Homo sapiens: one gene and its partner. The protein of the gene in region 1 interacts with the protein of each later gene in a pairwise test. Each region holds a gene or a part of one and is shown on either strand. Other genes may lie near its edges.

What was found.
Region 2: the proteins of FAM234B (region 1) and ABCD4 interact in binary tests that used the Homo sapiens proteins (3 or more experiments, as listed by UniProt).

The regions. Positions count from the first base shown.
Region 1 is NC_000012.12:13,045,886-13,060,958, reverse strand, and holds part of FAM234B (protein FAM234B), read right to left. Parts: intron 5,409-15,073; coding exon 5,013-5,408; intron 2,509-5,012; coding exon 2,410-2,508; intron 1-2,409.
Region 2 is NC_000014.9:74,277,862-74,292,934, reverse strand, and holds the end of ABCD4 (lysosomal cobalamin transporter ABCD4), read left to right. Parts: intron 1-65; coding exon 66-187; intron 188-292; coding exon 293-384; intron 385-558; coding exon 559-648; intron 649-2,435; coding exon 2,436-2,644; intron 2,645-2,816; coding exon 2,817-2,908; intron 2,909-3,415; coding exon 3,416-3,452; intron 3,453-3,649; coding exon of another isoform or gene 3,650-3,780; exon of another isoform or gene 3,781-3,823; intron 3,824-4,169; coding exon 4,170-4,219; coding exon of another isoform or gene 4,220-4,275; intron 4,276-4,675; coding exon 4,676-4,728; exon of another isoform or gene 4,729-4,731; intron 4,732-5,048; coding exon 5,049-5,125; intron 5,126-6,118; coding exon 6,119-6,234; coding exon of another isoform or gene 6,235-6,261; exon of another isoform or gene 6,262-6,405; coding exon 6,406-6,474; 3' UTR 6,475-7,666; downstream 7,667-15,073. UniProt on the Homo sapiens protein: Lysosomal membrane protein that transports cobalamin (Vitamin B12) from the lysosomal lumen to the cytosol in an ATP-dependent manner. Targeted by LMBRD1 lysosomal chaperone from the endoplasmic reticulum to the lysosomal membrane.

The DNA of each region.
Region 1 (15,073 bases):
CTGGAATCAATTGATTTGGTCCCAGTCAGGAAAAAATATTTGGGAAGACCTAATACCTAGATCCAAGTACAGCTGGTAAGGGATTAGAGTAGCCATGATCCTTAGTAAATAAGCCTTTATGTCACTTAATTACTACATCAGACTCAGAACTTTCTCCCTTGTCAGTTTCACATTCACTCTCAGGATAGGGACACGTGACTCATTTCATACAGTTCCCACTTTCAGCAACAACTAATATGGATAAGGAAACAAAACTTTTAGAGCTTCCTTCTACCTATTCCTCAGCACGACTAATTGAATATACAACCTAAAAACAAGTGACAAACAATGGCTGGCTGTTTCAGACCCTGTTGCCAGAAGATATATATGACAAACAGAGGTGGTATATGGTAACTTCCAGGCTTCTCAAAGGTGCTAGGATCCCTATCCTGTGTGGTTCTTCCTACTGGAGGACCCTACTCCATCCTACAATGCTCTGACTCGTCTTTTCCCAGATGGTGATGGATTACCCCTTCCTGCTAGACTATGACTTCTCGAGGCCAAAGCCAGGCTCCTCTTGTTCGGCAGTCTGTGTGTAACCATCAGAACTCTAGAGAAGGTGCAGAGTGGCTGCCGCACAGTTAGTATCAACACACAGTTGCTGAATGAAGGAACAAGTGAATAGACAAAAAACTCAATCCCTCTGTGTCCAGTAGCACAAAGCTTTGTGGGTTATGGGCACAGCAGCTTGGCATGAGGGTCAAGGACATGAACTCCAGAGCCAGACTCCTTGGATCCGAATCCCCAGCTCTATCATTTACCAGCAGTAGGACTGGGCAAGTTCTTTAACCTCACAACGTCTCACCTTCCTCATGTGCAAAAGGGGGATAATAATGGGTCTACTTCACAGGACTGTGTGGAAGGATAAATTCCTTCATACGTTATGTGCTGACAATGGTGTATTAACACATAGAAAGCACCATATGTTCGCTATATCCTTATTTGTACAGTCTGTGGCCAAATCAGCCTGGTCCATATTGTGTCCAAACCCATGGCCTTGCCATTATGAGTCTTGGTATGAAGCAAACTACGTAAGATACCAAATGACTAAAAACATCTCTAAATCTAAGTAGATGGGGAAGATTTTTACTTCAGAAGTCACGGGCAGGAAAAGTGTAATCAAGTTTTGATTGCACGGAAATCTACTCCTAGGCTGGAGATGCTCTCTACAGCAGATCTCCACCCAGATTGCTTCCACATCTCATGTGGGCCTCAGAAAGCCACTCCTACTAATGTAAGAGATGTGGTTTAGAATTCTCTAAAACACACCTAGACATGTATTCCAAGGCCTAGACGACTTAAAAGCAGTCACTAGGGCATCCTCAGCATCAAACTAGGTCCCTGCATCAGCTCACAGGCTGCAGTTTGACTCCACTGTAGTGGAGGCTGCAGGATCAACCAAAAGCCTTGTGTACTTAGGCTGAAATCAGAACGCATTTTTTCTTTTTCTACAGCTGACATGTGTAAAAGCTGGGATCCCAGAAACAGCACCCTAAATGAGGGTAAGTTGTGGACGGTTTCTTAAGGAGACTATTCACAAAGATGTGGCCAGCATGTAGAAACACCACAAGTGATAGTGCAGACCCTCAGAACTGTTAGGCTCCCCAACAAAGACACAAGGAGAGGACGCAATTACTGGAATCCAGAAAAGGAAAGTCCTATAGGAGGGCCACCTTGAAACGAGCTGTGACCCAGGGTCAAGGCTGTAGCAGCCATTCTGCAGTGACCCCGGCGGGGAGGGAGCCAGGGGAGTGAATACCTCCCCTCACACTCTTACTCCCCTCCCATTCCTGAGCTGTGCTCCCCATTGAAAGGAGACCAGCAGGCAAGGAAGCCTGTTGATACCATCCATACAGCTCAGCTTCCCCATGCAGAGAGCAGGATGGACAGCAGGTCTACAAGTGTAAACTGAAGGGGGAAAGGAAAACACCCGGCCAAGAGGTATTTGTGTAAAGATGTATAAGTCTATGAACAAAAGTTTTCTTCCAGGGATAGGAGGGTAGCATAAAGTCAATGTTCACTATAATCTAAGAGGCAATGGAAAACCAGGAGAAAACCCAAGGAACCCGAGGACTAACACTGTTCGTTGCAAAGTGTGTGGACAAGTCACTTCCTCTCTGCATCACAGTTTCTTCACTGGCCTGGTCACCACTAAAAATTCCTTCCAGCTCTAACTCCCTCCGATTTCTTAGACTGAGCTTTATTTATATGTGGAAGCTTTCTGATGAGGGTTTTCATGTATGCCAGAACCATGGTAACTTTCTGTTCACTGCAGATCCTTCTCTGCAGTACCACTTGGGACACAGCTCTGATGTTTTCTCCTAGCTGACAGTGCCCCTGTAGCAGCCTTGAAAAAAACACGTCTCTTACCTACTGCACTCCCGTTCCTTGACATCACAAAGGAGAGAAGCACATCACGCAGGCCATCTCCATTCACATCAGCCAATTCCAATGGAGACAGGTCCCCACCTGTTATACACATAAAAAACCAAAAAGGTCCTGAGCAAGTTACCACAAACCAGTTCTCTGTTGCCAGTAGCTCTATAAACACCAGGCAGACTCCAGTTCCTCGACTAGGTATAGTAGACACACCTCTCCCTACTCCCCCTGCTAAGTGCATGGAAAAGCCCTGGACACTGTACATAAAACAAACATAAGACAACTCTAAAAGGCAGAGAGAAGGAAGCAGACCAGCTAGGGACTGCAAGACCCAAGGAATGACAAGGTGATGAGTCCCCTGGGTTTTCTTTTGGCCTCATAATACCCAGATAGGGTGCTGGAAAAGCCAGCAACCCAGAAACACCACAGATACAGACAAAAAAAGCCCCAGAAAAGGCTGCCTTCCCTAGCCAAAAGCCCAGGAAAGGTGCAGTCCAGCAAGACAGGAAAGTTGTAGATAATAACTGCTCTACTCCAACCAAACAGATAAAATTATCAGCCCAGCTCCACCCACTCATATAGCAAAGGCTGAATGTGGAGCCTGGCTCCCACCCTCTCCTGGATGTAACAAGGTACCCCACCACCACCACCACCATCAGGGTCATGTCAGAGAAAGCCAGGTGGGGGCAAGGACTGTCATCCTCATCTAGCAGGACCAAAGGAGTTCCACCCCAACTAGCATCAACAAGGCAGCCCTCTCCCTCCTCTCCACGGGGGTGGTGTCAGCAGAGGCCTAGTGAGGAGTCTGGACTTCCATCCCCCCACCACCCAAAAGTGTGGACTCAGAGGATGCCCACCAAATTTGGAGAGAATTCACACATTGCTAGTGGAAATGTAAATCGGTACAACCATGTTGGAAAATAATTTAACATAAACTGCTAATAATGAACATGCACACACCCTATGGTATGATCCAGCAATTTTACTCCTAGGTTTATGCCTTAGATAAATTCTTATACACTGCAATAGGAAACATATACAAAAATGTTCTTAGCAGCATCATTTATTTATTTAAAAAAAAAAAGACTGGAAGCATTACTTAAAGGTTCATCAACAGAAAAATGGATAAATCATGAGATATTCATACCATGGAAAAATCAGACAGTAGTGAAAATGAATAAACTCCAGGTATAATGCATCAATATAGATGAATCTCAATAAATTGTTTTCAAAAAATTAAGTGGCACAAAGAAGCAGGTCACAGGCTGGGTGCAGTGGCTCACAACTATAATCCCAGCACTTTGGGAGGCCGAGGTGGGTGGATCACCTGAGGTCAGGAGTTCAAGATCAGCCTGGCCAAAATGGCAAAACCCCGTCTCTACTGAAAATACAAAAATTAGCCAGGCATGGTGGCGAGCTCCTGCAATCCCAGCTACACGGGAGGCTAAGGCACAAAAATCACCTGAACGCGGGAGGTGAAGCCTGCAGTAAGCCGAGATCATGCCACTGCACCCCAGCCTGGGTGACAGAGCAAGACTCTGTCGCAAAAAAAAAAAAAAAAAGCAGTTCACAGAAGACTGCATGATTAAATTCATGTAAAATTTAAAAACCAGCAAAAGTAATGAATATACAGTTTAGGGGTACATATTGACATGGTAAAACTTTACAGAAAAAGGAATAATCAACACAAAATTCAGGATAGCAGAGGCCTTTGCTGGGCAGAGGAGGATGTGGTCAGGAGGGACACACAAGAGATTGTGAAGGTCTCAATGATGTTCTATTTCTAAAGCTGGGTGGTAGACACACCAACAATTTGTTACCTTTAAACTGTATATAAATATATGTAAATGAAACTTGCCTTCAGAGAAACTAAAGATGAGAACACAGAACTCATCAGAAGCTAATTCAACTGGGATCAGAGAAGTGGCAGAGATAAACATTTCTAGATCAAGAGGATGCCAGGGGTCTGAGGATAGCTTAATCCAGTTCACAAGAGACAGGACTACTCAACACAGGTGAGATGTAAGTCCCATTCCAGAGCAAGAGGTTTTAAAGAAGCCTACTCCAAAAAGGAGACAGAATAGCTGGAATTACTCAGACAGCACCGCCCTAACCATGAGGAGCAAGAAAGAAAAGATAGCAACTATCTTTTACAGGAAATGAAATTATTTTATAATTTAAATTAGATCAGACCTCTATCATCAAAGAATGTCAAAGGGTTCTGCAAGAGCTCTATCCCTGGTGCAACCAGGCCTTGAACCTTGCTTTTCTCTGTAAATAGCCCTTCCTACAGCTTTGCATTCCCCTGATACAGTGCTGGCTCCACAGCAGGAATCCAGCAAACCAGCCCTGTCCTCTCTGGATCTAATAAAGACCAATGCCAACAGACACAACAGAGCAATGATTCCCAGGTTTTTGGAGGTGTTTGTTTTCTTTCAAATCTTAATCTCCTTGCCACCTCCACACAGTGGGGACGGCAGGGTGGGGAATGCCGCATGACACATATTAAGTTTTAAGATTTGGAGGAAAATTTAAATGTAATCAGACATAGCATGAAGTTTCACAGGATTAGGGCTGAAGATTCTGCAGCTCACCTCCCTGGGAGCCCAAGTGGCGGCTCCAGGTGCTGTGCAGATCTCTGGGAGGACAGGGGATCAGGAAAGCACACAGGAGCACCAGGATCATCGAGATCCCCAAAGTCAGCAGGAAGACAGACGTGCGCACATATGACACCAGGGAGGAGGCCGCCTTCTGTTCCAGGCCCCCAAGGGGTTCTGAGGGGTAGCCCTCCGTGGTGACTTCTGAAAGATGTGGCTTTGCAGCCTCTGCAACCTCAGCATCTGAGTCGGGTTCTGGCGCTTCTCCCAAAGGACTCTTCCCATTTTTGACCCCTCCATTCTTCTGCAGGTTAAGCACCAGATCGTCTTCGCTCTCATCACTGTCAGCCTGGGTAAGTGGATCATACTCCCCTAGGTCTGGGCTCTTCTTCCCTGAAAATACAGAAAAACAGAGAGTCAAGGGGAACTGGGGAGAAGACACCCTCACCAAATATATGGCAACTGTAAATACCCAGAAGAACACGGAAAACTAAAACAAAAAAATCCAGGTTTACATCAAGTTTGAACCTTGGTGGCTATCTGTAAAACAGAAGCCAGTGAAGCAGGGGTTAGGAATGGAAGGAAAAACAAAAGCACAGTGCTCCAGGATCACTGCCTGCATGAGTTTAAGACAATGGAAAAGGAGGCAGAAGTTAGCAAATTTAAAATGCCTTTAGTTTAAAAAGAAAGCTCTCTTAATGTGTTTGAATCTCACTCAAGAAAAAGATCATGGCTCCACATCAACTCTCCATGTGCCTAATGTGCATATTGCCTCAGATCTTCTTAGATCTGTGACATCCTAATCTTTCCTGGTAAACTTTTAGAACAATTCTTCTCCATACGCTGCTTCTCACAGCCCAATATCTGTGGCTTCCCAACTGTTTCTATGGAAACAACTTAGAAAGTTGAACACTGAATGTTCATCTGAAGATGTATTGAAATCTCACTTCTAAGAACCATCCTGTGATTTGAATGCCCTTTCAGTCTATCTTTTAGTAAACAGTGTTTACCCCAAAAACTGCTCTTCTGAGCAAGTATTCTGGGAGGGGTGGTGATCTAGCCAGTACACAGAGGTAGGGGACTTGTCTTGAAGGTGCTTTGCATGGCAAGCACTTTGTTTTTACTTAGCTTGCAGTGTTGATTTGGGATAGCTGAGAGAGAAATTACAGAAGAGCCTAGGTACACCTCCTCCCAAGCCACCCACCCCTTGGCCTCACTGCCAATGACTGAATGATTTTATGCCTTTATTTCATGTTACCACCAAGTAACAACCAAGAAAATGTTTCTTTTGGGGAGACTTTATGCAGTAATCTATCACTAATGTAAACTCTATCATTAAATCTTTTGTTCAGAAGAAATATAAAAAAGACCACAAAACCCAGCTAATTAAAAAGGGGAAAAGAATAATTATTAATGCTAGTGTCTACCTCTGGGTCACTATGGCCTTGGTGATGTCATTTCATACATTATATCTCAGTTTGTTCAATTAATAAAATGAAAGAATAAAACACTATATGGAGACCAGATTGTTGCGGGAAGGCAAGGACCCCAAATGGAGGGACCAGCTGGAACCACGGCAGAAGAACATAAATTGTGAAGATTTCATGGACACTTATCAGTTCCCAAAATTAATACTTTTATAATTTCTTATGCCTGTCTTTACTGCAATCTCTAACCACAAATTGTAAGATTTCATGGACATTTATCACTTCCCTATTAATACTCTTATAATTTCTTATGCCTGTCTTTACTTTAATCTCTTAATCCTGTTATCTTCATAAGCTGAGAATGTACGTCACCTCAGGACCACTATTGTACAAATTGATTGTAAAACGTGTGTTTGAACAATATGAAATCAGTGCACCTTGAAAAAGAACAGAATAACAGCGATTTTCAGGGAACAAGGGAAGATAACCATAAGGTCTGACTGCCTGCGGGGTCGGGTAGAATAGAGCCATATTTTTCTTCTTGCAGAGAGCCTATAAACGGATGTGCAAGTAGGGAAGATATCACTGAATTATTTTCCCAGCAAGGAATACCCTGGGGAAGGAATGCATTCCTGGGGGGAGGTCTACAAATGGTCGCTCTGGGAGTGTCTGTCTTATGTGGTTGAGATAAGGACTGAAATATGCCCTGGTCTCCTGCAGGTACCCTCAGGCTTACTAGGATTGGGAAATTCCAGCCTGGTAAATTTTGGTCAGACCGGTTCTCTGCTCTCCAACCCTGTTTTCTGTTAAGATGTTTATCAAGACAATACGTGCACAGCAGGACACAGACCCTCATCAGTAATTCTAACTTTGCCTTTGCCTTGTGATCTTTATTGCCCTTTGAAGCACGTGATCTTTGTGACCTACTCCCTGTTCCTACACCCCCTCCCCTTTTAAAATCCCTAATAAAAACTTGCTGGTTTTGTGGCTCAGGGGACATCACGGACCTACCGATATGTGATGTTACCCCCAGAGGCCCAGCTATAAAATTCCTCTCTTTGTACTCTTTCTCTTTATTTCTCAGACCGGCCAACACTTAAGGAAAATAGAAAGAACCTACGTTGAAATATTGGGGGCTGGTTCCCCCAATACCAGATGTTGGAAGTAAAACCTTTGATGTTTAAAGTTAGTATTTGGTACATTAAAAAAATCAATAAATTTTAGATTTTTTAAAATGAACATTCCACAGAATTATAACATTAAGTACTTTCAAAAAAAATCCAAAGAAAATACTGAATAATCTGTCATCCTAATAACTAGAAATTATTTCTATTTATTTTTATTTTCAAAACTATACATTTTGCCCAATAAATATTAGACTTGATTTTTAAGGGCACAAATTACAAGAAAATAAATCAATTATTAGAAACTTAATTCAAAATAGTACTTTCAGAATATGCCATGGGGTCAGTACAGGTTCCAGATAATCTCCTACAATTTGTATTTCTACTCCATGAACCAAATTATTTGGTTAATTAGGGCACACCATTCCCTAACCATCCCAGATAACTCTACACATAATAATTTGCATACAGAGCCATGGGTTGTTAGAATAATATTAACTCTAATGCTTTTTAAAGTGATTGTTTGTTCTTGTTTTGTTTTTTAGCTAAAATACACCTGACATGATAAACAAAATGTGATATGTACGTACCATGGAATATTATTCAGCTCTAAAAAGGAAGGAACTTCTGACACTTGCTACAAAATGGATGAACCTTGAGGACATTACGCTAAATGAAATGAGCCACACACAAAAAGGCAATACTGTGTAATTCCACTTATGTGAGTTATCTAGAGTAGTCACACTCACAGAAACAGAAAGTAGAATGGTTGTTGCCTAGGTCTGGAGGTAGAAGGAAAAGTTGTTACTGAGTAAGTATAGAGTTTCAGTTTTGCAAGATGAAAAAGTACTAGAGATTGGGTGCATATACAGTTAATACTGAACTGTATACTTAACATAGTTAAGATGGTAAATTTTATGGTGTATGTATTTTTTGACAATTTAAAATGTTTAAATATATATATATATATCTGAAAAACAGGAAAGCACACAGAGTTCTCAACTCTAGAGTTACTTGAGAAAGCACAGCAAGAGACCTTAAAGATCACATAATCTATCCCCACCCCTATCCCAAACTTACAACTAGCTACTTACAAAGACCTATCAACCAGTTACTTAGCAAACACCTGAATGTAACCTGTATTAGGGAATCCACTGGCCTCCAATCTAGAAACCAATTCTTTACACTGATTCAAGAATTTTTTTCTGGGAAGTTGCCAATTATCTGTCCTAGTTTTAATTTCTGGGATCCCTCTCTCACATGTAAGTCCTTCAAACACTCAAAGGTATCAATCATAAGAGACATATGATATGGTATTTAAGAGCTCAAGTCTTCACAATCAAACATCAAGCCAAATCCTGGCTATATCTCTTATGAACTATGTAATCTCAAATTTCTTAACTTTATTGAGCATCAATTTCCCTATTTATGAAATGGAATAATTATTCTTTTTAGCTCATATGATTGTGATGAGAATCAAATAAGATAATATATGTCTGCTTCTTAGTGCCTGGCTTATAGCCACACAATAAATTTTAGCTTCTATTATTATCATTACCATCACTGGTGCTAGTATTGTATCTCCCAGTGCCCTCCCCCACTCTTCTCAGCTCCAACTTAAACACCTCCACCTCTTTCAACCCATTACTTAAAGAAGCATTGTTTCAGGTGTCCTCAACATCCTGGTCATTCTCCTCTGGACACAATGTGATATGTCTGTGCTTTTTAAAATATGGTTCTTGGAACTAGATACAATCCCAGGTACAGTCTGACCAGAGAAAGGGAGGGCAGAGCTATTTCCTACCTACTCCAGATAGCAAACAACAATTCAATTTCTATAACGTAAGATCTTGAGAGCTTTCTTGGCATTCACATCACCTACTGATTCAATTAAAACTTCCAAGCATTTTGAACACATGCTTAAGCCACCCTATAATTGTGCAATTGGATTTTTAGCACCAAGTGAAAAATTTAGCATCGACATCAAATTCAATCTTGCTAGTCAGTCTCCACCTTGCAACAAACATATCAGGCTAAAAACAGCACCTTTGTCAAAGTGAAATCATTAATAAAACACTTCCCAGCAAAACAGTTTAAAGGAAATTCATTTTTATCATGCTATGTACTATCACAGGCAGGGAGGAAGAGAAGCATATGCTACAGGAATTTATAAAATCTGTAAGAAATTTATAAAAACAATTTGAAGCATTCTTTGAGAAAAAAGCTGCTGTCAGATTGGTCTGTTTAGCAAGATTACATGCTTCTAGTTAATGATGGCAAAAGTGGGCATTTCTGTCACACTGTCTTCCCTAAAACCAGGAAAACAAATACAGAAAAATAAAAATAGAACACAAAATAGGAAACAGCCACATTCCCAAACCACAATTTATGAACTAAATGCACTGAAACTTGTACTCAATTGAGAAAGCTCAGTAAGAGTAGGCAAATACATCTTGCAGATATATATTGCACATATATTGCAGATCTTCAGCAATGAGCAGAGTTCACAGAATTAATAATCATGACAACAATAAGATGATGACGATGATGACAACTGGAAGTGTATTGAGTGCCTACTGTCCCAGGCACTGATCCAAGCATTTTGCATGTGTTAATTCATTTAATCCTCACATCAATCTTATATGGTAGATATTATTATTATTATTATTATCCCCCATTTTATCAACAAGAAAAATAAAATTAAAGAGGTAAAATGACTAAGATCACACAACTAGCCAAAAGAAAAGCCAGGATTCAAACCCAGGCATCTGACTGCAGAGTCCATTTGTTGTTCTAACCAACAAGTTATACTACCTCCCTTGTTCCACAAATATAGCCAAACCAGTAATTGCTTGCTTGGAAAGACAAAGTCTGGGGTCACAGAAGCACCAATGAGCCCCATTCAACACCACAGAATCAAATCCAAGTAGGACCGAATGAGGAAAAGTACAAGCTGACATCTTCACAAAAAGCACACTGTCAGGACGGCAGGTTAGAAAAGTAACTGGGCATAATCACTCTGACTGGGCCCAGTCAGGATACAGAAGCCAAACAATAGTTCAAAGAGGACAAGTTTAACATAAAAAAAATTACTAAGCAATGACAGGAGAGTAAACATAAAGATGAGAAGAGAACTCTAAAAGGTCCCCTAGGACTGAGAGACAATATCCAAGGCAGGACAAACTTGATATTTAAAAGGGCTCAGACCCACTTTCACAAATCAGTCAACAAAGGTGAATTTGGAGTTCAGATGCAATAAATTGATAACTGGCAAAACAAAGTCAATGAAGGAAATGCCAAACCAGCAGCCTACAGTCCTGTGCAAAGCCTCCTCCTAGCCAGGATAGAGACATCCACACAGGAAGAGTGCTGGTGGGGAGCCAGCTGACTTAACAGGCCTGGATTACATTCTTGCTTCCAACGGCCCTAGATCACCCCTTTGGCAATAGCCAGGCTGTCAAACAACCGCCCCATTTAAATATAAGTAATAATCAGAAAGGAGCCATGTTTAGTACTCATTCCACAAGATACCACAAAGCTCTACAAATATTCAAGAAAGAAGTAACAACGAAACATAACAAACAATTAGCTGAAAAACAAATGCTGGACAAATCACACCACAAGATGGAAGAAATAATGAACATATACTTCCCCATGGAGTCTGAGAAATTTAGGAAAATCGTCTTCTCTGAAATAAGCACTCAGGAAAACAATGGAAAAAATAACAAACCAGTTTTAGAAAAGAAATCCTTATTGGAATCAGCTAAAGGAACAGATATTGCTGAAAACAGAGTCAGAGACATAAAAAGAATAGACTAGTGAAAATCAAGCAAAATGTAATGGAAATAACTACAGCTGGCAGTTCTGAACACTTATCCTACACTCTTCCAAGCCCTTTTAATGTCTTATCTCAGACCAGGGGTGCTGGCTCACGCCTGTAATCCCAGCACTTTGGGAGGCCAAGGCGAGCAGATCACTTGAGGTCAGGACTTCAAGACCAGCCCGGCCAACGTGGCGAGACCCCGTCTCTACTGAAAATACAAAAATTTGCCACGTGTGGTGGCAGGCGCCTGTAACCCCAGCTACTCAGGAGGCTGAGGCATTAAAATTGCTTGAACCTGGGAGGCGGAGGTTAGAGTGAGTCGAGACCATGCCACTGCACTCCAGCCTGGGCGACAGAACAAGACTTTGTCTCAAAAAAAAATTCTTATCTCAGTAAATCTTCATAACAACTATGTGAGGTAGACACATTACTGTCTTCACTTTCAAGATGAGGAAGCTGAGGCTTGGAAGTTTAAGTAATTAGCGGATGTGGTTTGGCTCTGTGTCCCCACCCAAATCTCAACTTGAATTGTACTTCCATAATTCCCATGTGTTGTGGGAGGGACCCAGTGGGAGATAACTGAATCATGGGGGCAGTTTCTTCCGTACTGTTCTCATGGTAGTGAATAAGTCTCACGAGATCTGATGGTTTTACAAGGGGAACCCTGTTTCGCTTGGTTCTCATTCTCTCTTGCCGCCACCATGTAAGATGTGCCTTTTACCTTCCACCATGATTGTGAGGCCTCCCTAGGCACACAGAACTGTAAGACCATTAAACCTCTTTCTTTTATAAATTGCCTCGTCTCAAGTATGTCTTTATCAGCAGTGTGAAAACAGACTAATACATTGGCCCACAGATAAACAGCAAGTGATAGGTAACAATTCAAAACCAGTCTGGCTTCAAAGTCTGTACGGGCTACATATGATCCCGTGGAAAAAAAATCAAGGCTTTAAAAAGACTAGAAACAACGTGATAGATACTGACAACAAAGGTGAGCCAATATATGCATGACCGAAGAGGATAACAGAAAAGAGGATAACAGAAAAGAGGATAACAGAAAACAGAAAAGAACCAAAAGCAGTATTTTAAAGAGTTGCCAAAAAAAACTTCCTACAATAAAGACCTAAAACTGCAGAATAATGAGTACACAGAGTCCCAAGAAAAACTGATTCAGAAGAATCAATACTGAAATATATCCTAGTAAAGGCACAGGACTTCAAGGACAAAGAAGGAATCCTATAAGCAGCCAGGCCAAAGGAAAAAGAATCAAGTCACTAATGACAGGAACAAAAATCAGGCAAAGATTTCTCCATAGTAACATACACTATTAAAAGATAGCGGAGCAATATCTAAAAAGTCCTCAGAGAAAGAACATGCAATTTGATGTCCAAGCATTCTGACCCAGCCATGACATCACCGAAATATAAAGACAAGCACACAAGCGCTCTGAGTTATCATATTCCTATGCTTTCTTTACATCACAGAAGACTAGGGGCCAGTTCTTGGCCAGCCTTTTGAGAGGAATAAATACTTTTATACTAATTTTTTTTTCAGATACTGCAAAAACAAACCTCCGCTTAAGGATTACAGACTGCAAGTTTTGATTAGAGAAGTCTTTAATAATATTTTTTCTATCTATTTACAGAAAGACAATAAGAGAGCGTGAAGTAAAAGACGTCCACCAACTTGCCTTAAAAGAAGTCCACCAACTTGCCTTAAAAGAAGTCCACCAACTTGCCTTAAGTCCTACTCAGGCTGAGGAGCCAGGCGTCAAATCCAGCTTCCAAGCTTAGGGCACTTAGCACTCACTCGCTTCCTTGCTACTTTCAGCCACCACCCAAATTTTTAATGAATGAAAGGTTTTCAAAGAATAAGGGAGAGGGCACTGATTTCATAACAAATCATTATAAATGCGCTTTCCACAGCTATTGCTTTTCCTCTTAGGAAGACTGAAGATGCTGCTTAAATATAATAGGATTTCCAAAATGGTAGAGAGGAAAACACAAATAGGAAAGTGATGCAACTATACCATACCCAAACGTTTTCAGGAAATATACTAAAACATACACTATTCTATAACATATACTATACTATAGTATACACTATACTGTGCATATACTATACAATACACTCTACTGCAACTAAAGGTAAATAATTCATATCATGGGTTAGTTTACCCAAGGGCATATAAAGACTAAGTTACACAAACAAAATAAATCATAAAAAATCATTTTGCTCTGATATTCCCTCCAGTGTTTGACCTTCAAACTTTAAAATGGCCTAAGAAAAAAAATATATATATACTTAGGAGATAAGCTGCCCTACAGGCTTTATGAATGTCATATTGGCCTTCTGCTACTAATTAACCTCATTTTATGCATGTGAGCCAAACATCTTTCCTTCTTGAGCTTAGCGAAACTGCTCTTTCATAACAAGACTGCTGAGATCTGTCAATAGCTCACTATTACATCAAGCCTTCCTTCAGGTATCACATTCATAAATGAGCACACTGCTGATGACAACAGCTAACACTTACTGACTAATTAACATATGTCAGAGGTTACTAGACCTCCTAAGTACATCCATCTCCTTTACTATTTCAGATAACCCTAGGAGGTAAATATGTAGTAGAATGTGTGGCATAGAGTGAATGTTCCATAATAATGTTATTGTTACAGATGAGGAAACTAAAGCTTAAAGAGATTAAGTAACTAATTAGGTAAAGACTGGATTTGAACCCGAGCCTGTCTCATGCTCTCAGCCACCACTCCAACCTGACTTCCTCACACATGAAAACAGTGGGGATGTTGGGGCCAGACGCAGTGGCTCATGCCTGTAATCCCAGCACTTTGGGAGGCCAAGGCAGGCGATCACCTGAGGTCGGGAGTTCCAGACCAGCCTGACCAACATGGAGAAACCCTGTCTCTACTAAAAATACAAAATTAGCTGGGCATTGTGGTGCATGCCTGTAATCCCAGCTACTCGGGAGGTTGAGGCAGGAGAATTGCTTGAACCCAGGAGGCGGAGGTTGCGGTGAGCCGAGATCACACAATTGCACTCCAGCCTGGGCAAGAAGAGCAAAACTCCGTCTCAAAAAAACAAACAAACAAACAAAAAAACAAACAAAGAAAACAGTGGGGATGTTAACTACAGGAACATAACACAGTAGCCCAAACAGGACAGCAGTCTCAGGACCCCAATTACAGGGGAGCCAAAAAGAGCTATATAAAAACAACTTGTACCTAATGCAAAAACTAAAAATAGTATTTTGGGTGGAGGGAAGAAGAAAGGGCAAGAAGGAGACAAGGAAAAACGCAAGTGAACATTTTCTCCCATCCAAGTACTAACCAGGCCCGACCCTGCTTAGCTTCCGAGATCAGACGAGATCGGGCGCGTTCAGGGTGGTATGGCCGTAGACGCAAGTGAACATTTTCTTAAAACCCACATCACATGAAAGAACACATGCCTACTATATCTGGGCCTAAAAAAGCATCAAGCATACCTCAGGGCTCAGGGCCAAGCTGCCTGCCAAACAGGCCCATGGACTGGACTATGGGAACCCCAACCAGTTCCTACAACTAATACTCCAGGGAGTAATAACACCACAGCCTTGGGGCATAAGAACACAAAAGACCTCAAGAGTTGCTAAAGCAAGATTTTCATGCATTCTCATTCTTAGAGAAT
Region 2 (15,073 bases), on another chromosome or scaffold:
AGGGTTGTGTCCGCTGTAGGGCATGTGGATGGTTCCTGGGTGTCTCACAGATGTGTTTTCTACAGTCGGCATCAACACCTTTGACTATCTGGGCAGCATCCTGAGTTACGTTGTCATCGCAATCCCCATTTTCAGCGGGGTCTATGGAGACCTGAGTCCCGCAGAGCTTAGCACCCTGGTCAGCAAGGTGAGACTCCCTCTTGGTCACCCCACATGCTGTCCCTCTCTGTCCTTGGCCCAGTGTCTGTGGGCTCGAGTCGAGACCTGCTTGACCTCTTCCCATCCTGTCCAGAATGCCTTTGTGTGCATCTACCTCATCAGCTGCTTCACCCAGCTCATCGACCTGTCCACGACGCTCTCAGATGTGGCTGGCTACACGCACAGGTGAGGCCGTGTCCCACCCCTCTGGCTCCTGAGCAAAGTGTGTGCTGCTGGCAGAAGTGGCTGAGTGAAAAAAGGAACAGAGACATACCATGTACTCGTGGGTGTGAGATAGGAAAAGGAGTTCACCTTCACCTGGCTCCCAGACCCTGCCTCAGATTTTCTTTTCTTGTTCAGAATTGGGCAGCTTCGGGAGACGCTTCTGGACATGTCCCTGAAGTCACAGGACTGCGAGATCCTGGGCGAGAGCGAGTGGGGCTTGGACACGTGAGTAGCGGGCTGGCAGAGCAGTAGTTGAGGCTGCAGGCTGTGGCATCACCTGGCTTGGGTTACCCTGGAGTCCTGCCCTTTCCCAGCTGGGCAGCAGAGTTGTAAGGAGTAAATGGAAATGGAATGCCAGGCACATGTAAGTTCACAGTCGATGTTGCTGTTCCGGCATCTGTTGTGTTAATTTACACCATTCCCCGGCCAGTGGAAGCAAAGTACACACACCTTCTGCCTGAGATAACAGGAATCTGCAGTGTCCTCCCCTTCCTGTGCTTCCTCCTCCCGCTGATTCCTCTCCCTGCCCCTTTCCTTGGGGCATGTCTGTCTTTGTTCCCCCACCTCACTCAGCCCCAGAGATGTCTGTATCCGTGTGTCTGCGTGGATCTGTAATATTTCTGTGCATTCAGGATTTGCTTGATCTCCACACTTTCCTTGGGCAGATTACCTAACTGTTCTGTTTCTTCATGTCTGAAAAGGAGGTCATAATGAACTTCCTTCACTTGTTGTAGGGATTAGATATCATCATCCATGGAAAGTGCTTGGACAGTGGCCACATCATAAGCTTTCAAAAATCAGTCTGAATTCCAGGGCCTACACTCAACTTGCTTTTCTTAGGAGCTAATACCTTAACTGTTGCTTCTGTTCCAAATGAAAGCTTCATGCAACCATGAGTGCAGAGGCTGGGCATGAAGGAGGGTCTGTAGGAAACTGGAATTGCTGTTCTGTGGGGAGCCAGGCATCCATGCAGAGGCAGAAACTCCAGAACCATTTAGCTTTAACCACTCCCATTCTTGTTATTAGTACTCTGGTCACACTGTGATGCCATGAAGACCCACCAGCATTAGAATTTGTTGAATACCGCTCTGCAACCTGGGCAGTTACTTAGCCACCTGATTCTTAGTGTCCTCATCTGTGATGATATTTGAGACTCATGGGCATTAGACTGAGTAAGATCAGTCCCATAAGGGGCTTTGTCCAGCCAGGCAGAGAGTAGAAGTTCCACCCCTACCCCTGTATTAATGTGCTCAGGCTGCCATGACAGAAAACCACAAACCGGCTGGCTTAAACAATAGAAATTAATTTCCTCACAATTCTGGATGCTTATGGTCCACGATCAAGTTGTCAGCAGGGTTGGTTTCTTAGGCCACTCCTTGGCTTGTAGATGGCCACCTTGTTGCTGTGTCCTCACGTGGCCTTTCCTTTATATGTGCGTGCCCCTGCCACCTCTATCTTAAGAGGACACCAGTCATATTGGATTAGGGTCCCACCCCAACAACTTCATGTTAACATCATCTCTTTAAAGACCCTGCCTCCAGCTGGGCACGGAAGCTCACGTCTATAATCCCACCACTTTGGGAGGCTGAGGTGGGCAGATCACCTGAGGTCACAAGTTCGAGACCAGACTGGCCAACATAGTGAAACCCTGTCTCTACTAAAAATATGGGCACGGTGGTGGGCACCTGTAATCCAGCTACTCAGGAGGCTGGGACAGGAAAATCGCTTGAACCCAGGAGGCGGAGGTTGCAGTGAGCTGAGATAGCTCCACTGCACTCAAGCCTGGGTGACAGCAAGACTTTCTCTCAAAAAAAAAAAAAAAAAAAAAGACCCTGCCTCCGAATGCAGTTACATTCTGAGTCACTAGGGGGCTGGACTTCAGCATGTGATTTTGGGAGGATGCAAGTCAGCCCATAATAATCCACAGGTGGTGGCTCCCGGGAGCAGTGCCTCCCCCACAGCAATACTGACCCTGCCCATCTTCCTCACGCCCCCTCTCTTCTCTGACACAGACCCCCAGGGTGGCCAGCGGCAGAGCCAGCAGACACAGCATTTCTCCTTGAGCGGGTCTCCATCTCTGCCCCCTCCTCTGACAAACCCCTAATCAAGGATCTGAGCCTAAAGATCTCCGAGGGACAGAGCCTGCTCATCACAGGCAACACGGGCACTGGCAAGACCTCCTTGCTCCGGGTTCTGGGTGGCCTCTGGACGAGTACACGGGGTGAGAGCCAGGCCCTCCCTGCCTCTGACCCAGCCTGGGCCCTAGGGGTGGGGTGAAGGCGGGGACGGTGTGGTAGAATCCATTCTTTTCTGTTGGGGAACAAGGAAGAGAGGAGACAGGCAGTTGCCTCTTCTGGGAGATCTCACAATGGAGGTTTCTGTGGGCTCTGCAGGCTCAGTGCAGATGCTGACGGACTTTGGGCCCCATGGGGTGCTATTCCTGCCACAAAAGCCATTCTTCACTGACGGGACCCTTCGGGAGCAGGTCAGTCTAGTTCAGGGGGCTCACTCCTCCCTCCTCAACCCCGCCCACCCACAGCTGGGACCTCTGGCACTGTGACAAGTCTCAGGTCCTAGAGTCAGGGCAAAAGGTGAGGTGGTGAAGTGGCCCGGGCCTGGGAACTGCTGGCTCTAAGAACCTTCTATTCACATCCATGGATTGGGCCCACTACTCATAGCAGCTCCTGAGGCAGGTAAATGGGGCAAGGACTCACGCCAAATACCACACGCGTATGTCAAACACCCAAGGTCGGATTCTGGGGCCCCTGCCCTCAGGAGGCTGTCAGACTGTTCCCCCTAAACACACTTCTGAAGGTTGTAGGGACCTTGCCCTGCTGTCTGCCGGCCAGAGCCTCTCCCATCTGACCCAGGCCAGGCGTTCCCACCTCTCCTCCTTGGGAGGTTCCAGTGGGTTCTGGAGGGAGGGTGGGCTGTGTGCAGCTCCGTCTTTTGCTCGCCCTCCTAGGTTGGTGTGGTTTTTTTCTTTTCTCAGGTGATATATCCCCTGAAGGAGGTCTACCCCGACTCAGGTGAGCTGGTCCTCCTTAGGTCATGTCCTCTCCTTCTGTCATGGTTGTCCCTGCTCTACCTGACTGTGGCCTCATCTGTGCCCTTGGGGAGAGGCTCCAGCCAGGCCGCTGATTCAAGGAAGAGGGGCTCCTCTCCTCTTCCTTTGACTGTTTTGGGGTCTGTACCCAGATCTCACCTCATTCTTTCTGTCCTTAAGGAGAGATGCCCACTGGGACAAGGAAAGTGATGCCTTCCTTCACCCACCCCTTCCCTTATGAAGATCTGCAACCTGTGGTTTCAAAGCCTTCGCCCAGCATTCTGAGGCCCCCACCCCTGCATCATCCATGATGTGCCCTGTCTATTCTTTTTTTTTTTTTTTTTTTTTTTTTTTGAGATGGAGTTTCACTCTGTCACCCAGACTGGAGTGCAGTGGTGTGATCTCGGCTCACTGCAACCTCCACCTCCCGGGTTCAAGCAATTCCCCTGCCTCAGCCTCTTCCGTAGCTGGGGCTACAGGTGCACGCCACCTTGCCTGCCTAATTTTTGTATATTTAGTAGAGACAGCGTTTCACCATGTTGGCCAGGGTGGTCTCCATCTCCTGACCTTGTGATCCACCTGCCTCGGCCTCCCAAAGTGTTGGGATTACAGGCGTGAGCCACTGTGCACAGCCTTGCCCTGTCTATTTTGACCAGCCAGGAGGCTCTGGCTTTTTGCAGAAGGCTTCTTTGTTGTGCAGGTTCTGCCGATGATGAGAGGATCTTGAGGTTCTTGGAATTGGCAGGCCTGGTAAGTGGGGAGAGGGACCCTCAGGACCCGAGCCCACCTGGGAGCACCAGCTACAGGTAGGCAGGTGCTGGCCCTGCTATGCTTGGGCCCAGGACTGGAAGTCTGAACCTGGGGTGGAGAATGGGAGTATCAGTTGACAGTGTGTGCTGTTGGCCAGGTTTAGGCACGAAGGGGGTAGTGCTCTCATTGGAGAATTTTAAAACAAGAATAGGATTGATGAAGGCGGTTTGCTTTTTACTGTCATCATGCTCCAGCAAGTCTAAACAGTGTCATTGGTAGAATATTCCTCTCTGCCTGGGGCAGACTGTCCCACAGTCCCCCGCCTTGGTATGCCACTGGGGCATATATTTGTCTTAGAGGTGTGTGTGTATGCTGGGGAGTGAGGGAGGTTCCCCATGATGGCAGGTAGCAGGGCTGGCCATTTCATGGACATCCTGCCCTCTGGGTCTGTTACAGTCCAACTTGGTGGCAAGGACAGAGGGCCTGGACCAGCAGGTGGACTGGAACTGGTAAGAAAAGAGCTTGGGTGCTCCAGAGATAGCCCCACCATAAAGACAGTGGGTTTCAGGGTCCCTGTCAAGGAATGGAACGGCTCCTGACCCCAAAGTCCAGATGTTTGGCTGGTCAGTCGGGTGCAAGTTTATGCCCTTGGGAACAGAGTTTTGCCTCACTCTGTGAGGGCTGTAGGCCTATGGTCGAAAGGGAAGGGGCTTCTGTCTCCTGGGGCTCACCTCTGTGCAGAGAAACCTCTTCCTACCCAGACCATTCTAGGTAAAAGCCAAGCTATATTCTTCCTCCTCTAGCAGTCCTCTCTCCTACCTTTCCTCAGGTATGATGTTCTGTCCCCGGGGGAGATGCAACGGCTCTCCTTTGCCCGACTCTTCTACCTGCAGCCGAAGTACGCAGGTGAGGTCTCGCCTTGTGGCTGCACATGCCATGCGCTGTCTGCACTCACGGGTGTAGCAGCATGTGTTCACAGGCACCCAGGCACACCTGTGAATGGCTGGGCTTCTCCGCATTCCCTGCTGGAGAGGACAGCAGGCCCTGCCCGTGTAAACAGTGCCTGGCATCGTCAGAGTTAACACTGAATATGCGGTACTGCCAGCTCATAAGCTTGCTTTTCTTCTGTTTTCTTTTTTCTTTTCTTTTTTTTTTTTTTTTTTTGAGACAGTCTCACTCTGTCACCCAGGCTGGGGTACAGGGGCACAGTCATGGCTCAGTGCAGCCTGGAACTCCCAGGCTTAAGTGATCCTCCCACCTCAGCCTCCTGAGTAGCTGGGACTACAAGCATGTGCCACCACACCCTGCTAATTTTTTTATTTTTATTTTTGTAGAGACAGGGTCATGCTATGTTGCCCAGGCTGGTCTGGAGTTCCTGGACTCAGGCCATCCTCCCACGTTGGCCTCCCAAAGTGCTGGGATTACAGGCATGAACCACTATGCCTAGCTCATAAGCTTTTTGCCTGGCAGCAGCTGGAGCCAGGAGCCAACATTGAAGGGTTATAATTTTATGCTCCTCTGGCTCCACCATCAAATGAATGGGCACCCATCCTCCTCTCCCACCAAGCTGTGCCTGGCAGGTGGATGGGTGTGGACTTTTCCAAAGACTGACATTCTTGCGGGGGACTGGGATTCCCTGGATTGAGTGGTCCCAGGGAGTGGCTGGTGCTTATCTATAGAAGCTGAGAGATTTCATGCAGCTGCTCACAGGCTATTCCCTTGGAGAGTCTGGCCCTCTGCTCCTCTGGCCCATCCTTCTCCCTGAGGCAGGGCTTCTGGAAGCCAGAGCAGCTTTCAGCCTCCCCTGGGTCCCAGCTGGGGTTGAGTATGGGTGGGAGGAGAAGCAGCGGCGGCAGAGGGCAGGGCTTTGATCTCTTCCTCTGTGCTCTGCCCCCTCAGTGCTTGATGAAGCCACCAGTGCCCTGACAGAGGAAGTGGAGAGCGAGCTCTATCGCATCGGCCAGCAGCTGGGGATGACGTTCATCAGTGTGGGACATCGGCAGAGCCTTGAGAAGGTACCCGTGCTCACAAGGATGGCCTGAGGAGGAGAAAGAACCCAAAGGCTCAGCCTGGCCAGGGCCAGAGGCCCCTCAAAACGGGGAGTAGCAGTAGCAGAGAGAACCGAGTGGCCTCCTCTGCCAGCGGCCAGGGCAGCCTGATCTCCATGTGGTGGTGGTCTCTTGTAGTTTCATTCCTTGGTTCTGAAACTCTGTGGAGGAGGAAGATGGGAGCTGATGAGAATCAAAGTGGAATGAAGCTCTGGCTTTTGGAAGGAGAGCCACACTGTGGCGGGTCGGCGGCCCTCAGGAGAGACCAGGAGGACTGACAGCGAAGATCGAGCTCAGGTTCGCCACATAGATCCCGTGCAGGAGCCACATGGGTCCTGTGCAGGACCCCTAGCAGTGGTGGGCTGAGCCCAGGTCTAGGTTTCTGTGGGGGACACTGAATCTCCCAGTGTTCAGTCTCCCAGGACTCTGCTGCCTCAGCCAGAGCCTCCATATGCTTGAAGTGCTGATTACCTACAAATGATTTCAGATCATGTTTGCTAAAGAGAAATCTGGAAGTGTGAGATCTGTAAGAAATGAAAGAAATGACTCTTGGAGTCAAGAGATCTGGAAATCTTTTAATCAGTTAAATTGTGCAGCAATAGATTTTTAACTTTAACTGACCATTTAAGTTTTTTAATAAGTTTTTTACAAAGAAAAGTTAAACATTAAAAAGAATTACAGCTTTCTGTCTTCTCTATCATGGAATGATCTTTTTTATTGAATCTCCAGATTTGTATTTGACAGCTTGGTGGGAAGGGAAGCACACTCTGCTGTTCTGGAATCTTATGCCCAGGGTTTTTCACTTCTCCCCACATCTCCCTTTCCACTTGCCAGTGTTGTGTAGTTAGAACCTGAACCACTAACTTCCAGGGGCCTTTGGTCTGCCCTACCTTAACCCAAATGAAAGTAAATCCCTTTCCCCTTAGCCAAAATAAGGTTGGGTTTTCTAAAAAAATAGTCTATATTAGGGAACAACAACAGCAAATTAGACAAAACCCAGAAAGCACAAAGCATGAGGTGGAGTTACTGTGCCCAAAGTCCTCACTCAGACCAGTGCCCCTCCAGTTCAGTTGTCTATGTATTACCTTCCTTACCTTCATAATTTTTGCCAGGCTTCTGTACTTCTAGTACTTGAGTTACTTAATATTTTTAAAAACAAACCTTTTAAGTTTAAATGGATTTTTAAGTGAAATTTTACACTTAACATAGATGGAAAGTAACTAAAAATAAATACAAGAAAAACCATCGGTGTTATTAACTTACGGCTAGATGCTGTTGCCTGCATAGACTCTGGGCCTGAGGCTTGTTCATTTTGTAAAAAAGAGAGGTGAGGAGTTAGACGGACTGGCACTCAACTGAGATTTTTCTCCTTAATAAAATCAGAAAGATGGAGTGAGAATTGTATTTTCTCACTGTAAAATATAAGATTATTTAACGCTTTCTTGGTACCACTTAAAAATGACTTACTCTATCCTTACTGACTTCTTCAGCTCCTAAGCCTTTTTCACAGACGCTGCTGCCGCTGCCAAGTTATTTTGTTTATTTTTATTTTTTATTATTTATTTTTGAGACAGTGTCTCACACCTCACTCTGTAGCCCAGGCTGTAATCTAGTGGCACAATCACAGCTTATTGCAGCCTTGACTTCCCGGGCTCAAGTGATCCTCCCACCACAGCCTCTCAAGTAGCTGGGACCACAGGCAGGAGCTCCTATGCCCAGCATCCAGATTATTTTGGAGACCAATTCATTCCTATCTCAGGGTCTTTGCATTTGCTGCTTCCTCTGCCTCTAACTGGTTTCCAGTGCTGTTCTGTTCTTAACACTTAGCCTTCTCCCTCACAGAAACTGCCCAAGAAAGCTACTCCTAGGGGCACACTCTGCACCTCTATCCCTCCCTCATGTCAGAGATGGAGACTACTCTTAGATGAGTCGACATAAACATGCGTGGAGGAAAATCAGGTCTTGTGTCCTTCATAGTACATTATGGACAAAATGTTTGTTTTAAATGCATCGTACATCAGCCAGGCAAATAGTTTCCCAAACTTAAGACCCATTTTGGCCACCCAGGAATCTACAGTGACCCATGTGGATGAGACATAAAGATAGCCATAGGTTTCCCATCACTCTTCTGGAGGGTTCTGGGCTGCAGGACAGGCAGAAAAGCCATCTTTTGTCATCTCTATCCACGTTGGCTTAACATGTCAATGTGTGTCTAGTAAAGGCAGCTCAAACCCAACATGTCCCAAACTGAACAAGAAGAGCTTTCCCTGGCCGGGCATAGTGGCTCATGCCTGTAATCCCAGCACTTTGGGAGGCTGAGGTGGGTGGATTGCAAGGTCAGGAGATCGAAACCATCCTGGCCAACATGGTGAAACCCCGTCTCTACTAAAAATAAAAAAATTAGCTGGGTGTGGTGGCACATGCCTGTAATCCCAGCTACTCGGGAGGCTGAGGCTGGAGAATCGCTTGAACCCAGGAGGCGGGGGTTGCAGTGAGCCGAGATCGTGCCACTGCACTCCAGCCTGGTGCCAAAGCAAGACTCTGTCTCAAAAAAAAAGAAAGCTTTCCCACTCACGCCTGTAATCCCAGCACTTTGGGAGGCCGAGGTGGGCAGATCACAAGGTCAGGAGTTCAGGACCAGCCTGGCCAATATGGTAAAACCCCATCTCTACTAAAAATACAAAAGTTAGCCGGGTGTGGTGGCAGGCGCCTGTAGTCCCAGCTACTCGGGAGGCTGAGGCAGGAGAATCATTTGAACCCAGGAGGCGGAGGTTGCAGTGAGCAGAGATTGTGCCACGGCACTCCAGCCTGGGCGACAGAGCGAGACTCCGTCTCAAAAAAAAGCTTTCCCCAGAGCCTTTTCTAGCATCTCCTCTGATGGCAAGTGGCGTTACTGTCCATCTAGCACATCACCAGGTGCTGTTGCTCTGACCCCATAAGTAAATCTTCCAGCCATTCACTTCTCTCACCTGCTTGAATCCTAGCTAGAAGCAGCTCAGAGGGAGCCAGAAAAATGAGAAAAACCACAAGGAGAATCGAGGAACAGGAGCCTGGACGGCAGCTGGACTCTGAAAAAAAGAAGTGTCAGGAGGCAGCCTGAGCCTGCCACGTAGGGGAATGTTAGTAACCAGTGGCACGGCATTCTGTGGGCTATGGGGCAGTTCTTGAAAGTGAGGGCACTTTGGTTTGCCGCACACCAGCCATGTCTGAGGCACCATTCTCAGTTCCAGGGTTACAGTGGGGAGCAAGATGGACCTGGCACCTCTGCTGGAGCTCGCGTGTTCCATGTGGTACATGGTGGGTCTGAAGGCAGAAAGCAGCAGGAAAACACTGGGCTCAACTACAAGTGGAAAACATTTACAAAATCGTATGTCTGTTGTGATACTGTAGCAGGTCTTCTTGAGCTGCCTCTAGAACTCGAGCATTCTAGCATTACCCAAAACATCAAGTCAAATACAAAACCATGGAAGACTATTACAGAATGTTACCAGATGGTTCGTGAGTGTGTAGGGAGTCCTATTTCCTGCTGCAAAGCAAACCATCTTTTTTTTTTTTTTTGAGACGGAGTTCACTCTTGTTGTCCAAACTGGAGTGCAATGGCGCAATCTCGGCTCACTGCAACCTCTGCCTCCCAGGTTCAAGCAATTCTCCCGCCTCAGCCTCCTTAGTAGCTGGGATTACAGGCATGTGCCACCATGCCCAGCTAATTTTTTTTTTTTTTTTGAGACGGAGTTGCTCTGTCCCACAGGCTGTAGTGCACTGGCGCAATCTCAGCTCACTGCCAGCTCTGCCTCCCGGGTTCACGCCATTCTTCTGCCTCAGCCTCCCAAGTAGCTGGGACTACAGGCGTCCACCACCACACCTGGCTAATTTTCTGTATTTTTAGTAGAGATGGGGTTTCACCGTGTTAGCCAGGATGGTCTCGATCTCCTGACCTCATGATTTGCCTGCCTCAGCCTCCCAAAGTGCTGGAATTACAGGCGTGAGCCACCACGCTTGGCCGTATTTTTTTTTTTAGTAGAGGCAGGGTTTCACCATGTTGGCCAGGCTGGGCTCGAACTCCTGAACTCAGGCAATCCACCTGCCTCAGCCTCCCAAAGTGCTGGGATTACAGGTGTGAGCCACTGCGCCTGGCCTGCAAACCATCTTTAAAATCCCCATTATCTTTCCCTTGGTTTCACTTCTTACACAGCAGCCTGTGTCTTCTCTCCTTCTCCTGTATCTCCCCTGCAATCCCTTTAACCCCTCCGAAAGGATTGGGTACTGGAGGGGACAACTTGGATTCCGGGACAGATTATCTCAGGAAAGACCAGGGAGGATGGAAGTGATCTTAGCTTTTGAACAAAAGTTCATGAATGCAACATCTGTGGGGCAGGCACTGCAAACAGAAGTCCTCATAAACAGCTGCCACACCTCCCCTGCATCCAGCATTTTGGAGACATTTTTTCATTTATGTATATGTGTATGTATGAGTGATGGGGTCTTTCTCTGTCGTCAGGCTGGAGTGTAGTAGCACAATCATAGCTCACTGCAGCCTCGACCTCCTGGGCTGAAGCAATTCTCCTGCCTCAGCCTCCTAAGTAGCTGGAACTATAGGTGTGCGCTAGCACGCCCAGCTAAATTTTTTTTTTTTTTTCTTTTGTGGAGATGGGGTTTCACCATGTTGCCCAAGCTGGTCTTGAACTCCTGGGCTCAAGCAGTCCTCTTGCCTCGGCCTCCCAAAGTGCTGGGATTACAGGCGTGAGCCACTGTGCCCGGCCATTTTCTTTTTTCTTTGTAGAGACGGGGCTCTCACCATGTTGCCCAAGCTGGTCTTGAACTCCTGGGCTCAAGCCGTCCTTTTGCCTCAGCCTCCCAAAGTGCTGGGATTACATGCGTGAACCACTGTGCCCTGCCCATTTTTTTCATTTAATTGTCACCACAGACCTAGCAGCAAGGAAGGCTGCAGGGCTTGGGCTATCACTGATGGGGCTGTCAGAGGTAGGGTCCTTGAGTCCTTGCAAAACAAAATGCCTGGGGGTTCTGCTAGGTGTGGAAGAAAGACAGGGACTGAGGAAGGTGAGCTGGTAACCTGGCCACACGGACCAGGCCAGTTGAGAAGGAAGCAGAGTGGGAAAGCCTCTGGGCAGAGGAAGGAGGGAGGGAGATGCTTCTCATGGGCAGAGGATAAGGAGCCCCCAAGAGACTCGGGCTGGCCACTCTGGTCATTTTGAGGGTAACAGAGACTGGAAGGTCACCAATAAGCCTCTGTTCCTGCCATAGGCCAGAGAGAGCTGTGCTGTGTGTTCTGTGTCCACAACAGAGCTGAGCTTGTCGGTCCAGGAAGCCGGAGAAACACAATGCCAGTTAGTCTCTGTAAATGCTGCCTTTCTGGAAGCACTGTCCTGTTGGTGCCAGGAGCTCCTGGCTGATGCTGTACTTGGATTTTGGGACAATGAATGTTCCTGAGCTAATCCCTGGGACAGAGAGGACCCTGTGGAGGCACATGTAATTGTTGGGACAGCCTGCCCTTGGAGAGCAAGTCAGCTGAGAGGGGGGCCAGTACCCTTGTGGGAGGCTGCAGCAATGCCCTCCTAGGGGGTGGGGAGAAGCTTAGCTAAACCCTGGCCCTGGGCATCAAGCAGGAGGACATGGGCTAGGGAACATTGACCTTGAGCCTCCAAGCAGGGTGAGGCTGGCCAGGGTGGGCCAGTGGATTTGTTCATCTGTAGGTAGGAAAGAGTCTTGAAGGTCGGAAGCCTCAGGGAAGGCTCAAGTTCAGGGCAGGACAGAGGGGTTCATTTGTTCTTAGCTCCTGGCATTCAAGGAAATCTCTCAAGGCACTAGCTGAACAGAGACCACACATGACAAGGATTACTGACTTTGCAAAAATAGTTTGGTAAAGTCACCAAACAAAGAGGCAACTACAGCCTTCAGCAATTAAAAACAGTAAACTGGGGAAGGAGGAGAAACTGATTTCTAGGGTTGCCATATTATAATATTCAAATGTCTAGGTTTCTTTTTTTTTTTTTTTTTTTTGAGACGGAGTCTTGCTCTGTCACCCAGGCTGGAGTGCAGTGGCGTGATCTCGGCTCAGTGCAACCTCTGCCTTCCAGATTCAAGCAATTCTCCTGCCTCAGCCTCCCGGGTAGCTGGGATTACAAGCGCGTGCCACCACGCCCAGCTAATTTTTGTATTTTTAATAGAGACGGGGTTTCACCATGTTGCCCAGGCTGGTCTTGAACCCCTGACCCCAGGTGATCTGCCCACCTCGGCCTCCCAAAGTGCTGGGATTACAGGCATGAGCCACCACGCCTGGCCTTCAAATGTCTAGTTTTCAATAACAAGTAGAACCTCACAAATTATACAAAGAAATAAGAAATGATGGTCCATTCAAGAGGAAAAAAGTTGACAGAACCTGTTTCTAAGGAAGCCTAGACATTTAAATGTGCTCAAAGAGCTCATGGAAAGCACGGGCAAAGAACTAAAGGAAAACAGAAAAATGAGGTACAAAATGAATATCAAGAAAGAGACAGAAATTATAAAAAGGAATTCAGGCCAGACACAGTGGCTCACGTTTGAAGTCATAGCATTTTGGGAGGCCAAGGTGGGTGGATCACCTGAGGTCAGTAGTTCAAGATCAGCCTGGCCAACATGGCAAAACCCCGTCTCTACTAAAAATACAAAAAGTTAGCTGGGTGTGGTGGTGGGCTCCTGTAATCCCAGCTACTCGGGAGGCTGAGGAGGGAGAATTGCTTGAATCTGGAAGGCAGAGGTTGCACTGAGCCAAGATCGCACCACTGCACTCCAGCCTGGGCAAAACTCCATCTAAAAAAAAAAACAAACAAACAAAAGGAATAAAGGAATCCAGTAGAGCTGGACCTGAAAAGTATAGCAACTGAAATAAAAAATTCACTAGAGGGGTTCTACAGCCGATGAGAACAAGCGGAAAAAAAAGAACCAGCGAACCTGAAGACAGGATGATTGAAAGTCTCCAGTCTAAGGAGCAGAATGAAAGAAAGTAAGCAGAATCTAAGTGATTGTGAGACACCGTCAAGTGGAACAACATCCTGAGACTGTGGGACTCTTGGAAGAAGAGAAGAGGAAGGGGAAGGAAGAATATTTGAGGAAGTAACAGCCAGAACTTCTCGAGAGTGAAAGGTAGAAAATATTTGCAAATCAGAAATCTGATAAGAGTCTAGTATCCCAAATATTTAAAGAACTCTTACAACTCAACAATAAAAAGACAATCCAATTTAAAAATGGACATTTCTCCAAAGAAGATATATAAATGGCCAACAAGCATACAAAAAGATGATCAACATCATTAGTCATGAGGGAAATGCAAATAAAAACCACAGTGAGATATTTCATACCCACTAGGGTGGCTATAATTTAAAAAACAGAAAATAACAAGTGCTGATGAGGAAATAGAAAATTGGATCTGGGCATGGTGGCCCACATCTGTAATCCCAGCACTTTGGGAGGCCAAGACGGGTGGGTCACCTGAGTTCAGGAGTTCAAGACCAGTCTGGCCAACATGGTGAAACCCTGTCTCTACTAAAAATACAAAAATTAGCACAGAGTGGTGGCACACACCTGTAGTCCCAGCTACCCGGGAGACTGAGGCATGAGAATCGCTTGAACCTGGGAGGCAGAGGTTGCAGTGAGCCAATATCGCACCACTGCACTCCAGCCTGGGCAACATAGCAAGACTCCGTCTCAAAAAAAAAAAAATTGGAACCTTTGTACATTACTGGCAGAAATGTAAAATGGTGCAGCCACTATGGAAAACATTCTGGTAGTTCCTCAAAAAGTAAAATAACTACCATATGACCTGGCAGTTCCATTCAGGCATATCTCAAAAGAACCAAGGATGGGTACCCCAACCAATACTTTTATAGGAGTGTTCATAACAGCACTATTCACAATAACCAGAAAGTGGAAACAGCTCAAAAATGTCCATCAACAGATGAACTGGCACTGGCTCTATCACTGGATTTGGTGCTGAAGCCGCTTCTAGCTCTGCAGCTGGCACTCATTCTGGCTTTAGCTTGGGGATGAGTGCTGTGGTGGGTGCTGGAGCTAGCTCCTGCTTTGTAGCTGGTGCTGGCACTGGCTCTACTGCTAGTGCTAGACTAGGTGTCAGAACTGTCTAGCTCTGGAGCTGGATCTAGGGCTGGTGCTAGAGCAGGAGCAGGCTCTAGCTTCAAAGCTGCCATTGGAGCTGACTCTAGCTCTAGAGCTGACACCAAAGCTGAATATAGCTCTGTGGCTGGCACTACAACTGGCTTAAGCTCTGGAACAGGTGATGGAGCTAGTTCTAGAGCTAGCACTGGCTTTAGCTCTGGAGGTGGTGCCAAAGCTGGCACTTCACCTGGCCTAGGCTCTGGAGCTGGTGCTAGAGCTGGCTCTAGCTTCTCATCTGGTGCTGGAGCTAGTGATGGAGCTGGCTCTAGCTGTGCTGCTGGTGCTGGAGCTGGCACTAGCTCTGGACCTAGAACTTCCTTTAGTGCCAGCGTTGGTGCTGAACCTGCTTCTGGCTCTGGAGCTGGCACTAAATCTGGCTATAGCTCACGAGTGGATGCCAGAGTTGGTGCTGGAGTAGGTGCAGAGCTGTCTGTAGCTCTAGAGCTGGAGCTAGTGCTGGTACTAATGTTGACACTGGCATAGGAGCCGGAGCAGGCTCTAGCTTTGGAGCTGACTCCAGCTTTAGAGCTGACTCTAGCTCTGGAGATAGCACTGGATCTGGAGCTGGCTCCTGAAGTTGAATGTAGCTCTGGAGTTGGCACAACAACTGGTTCTAGCTCTGGAGCTGGTGCTAGAA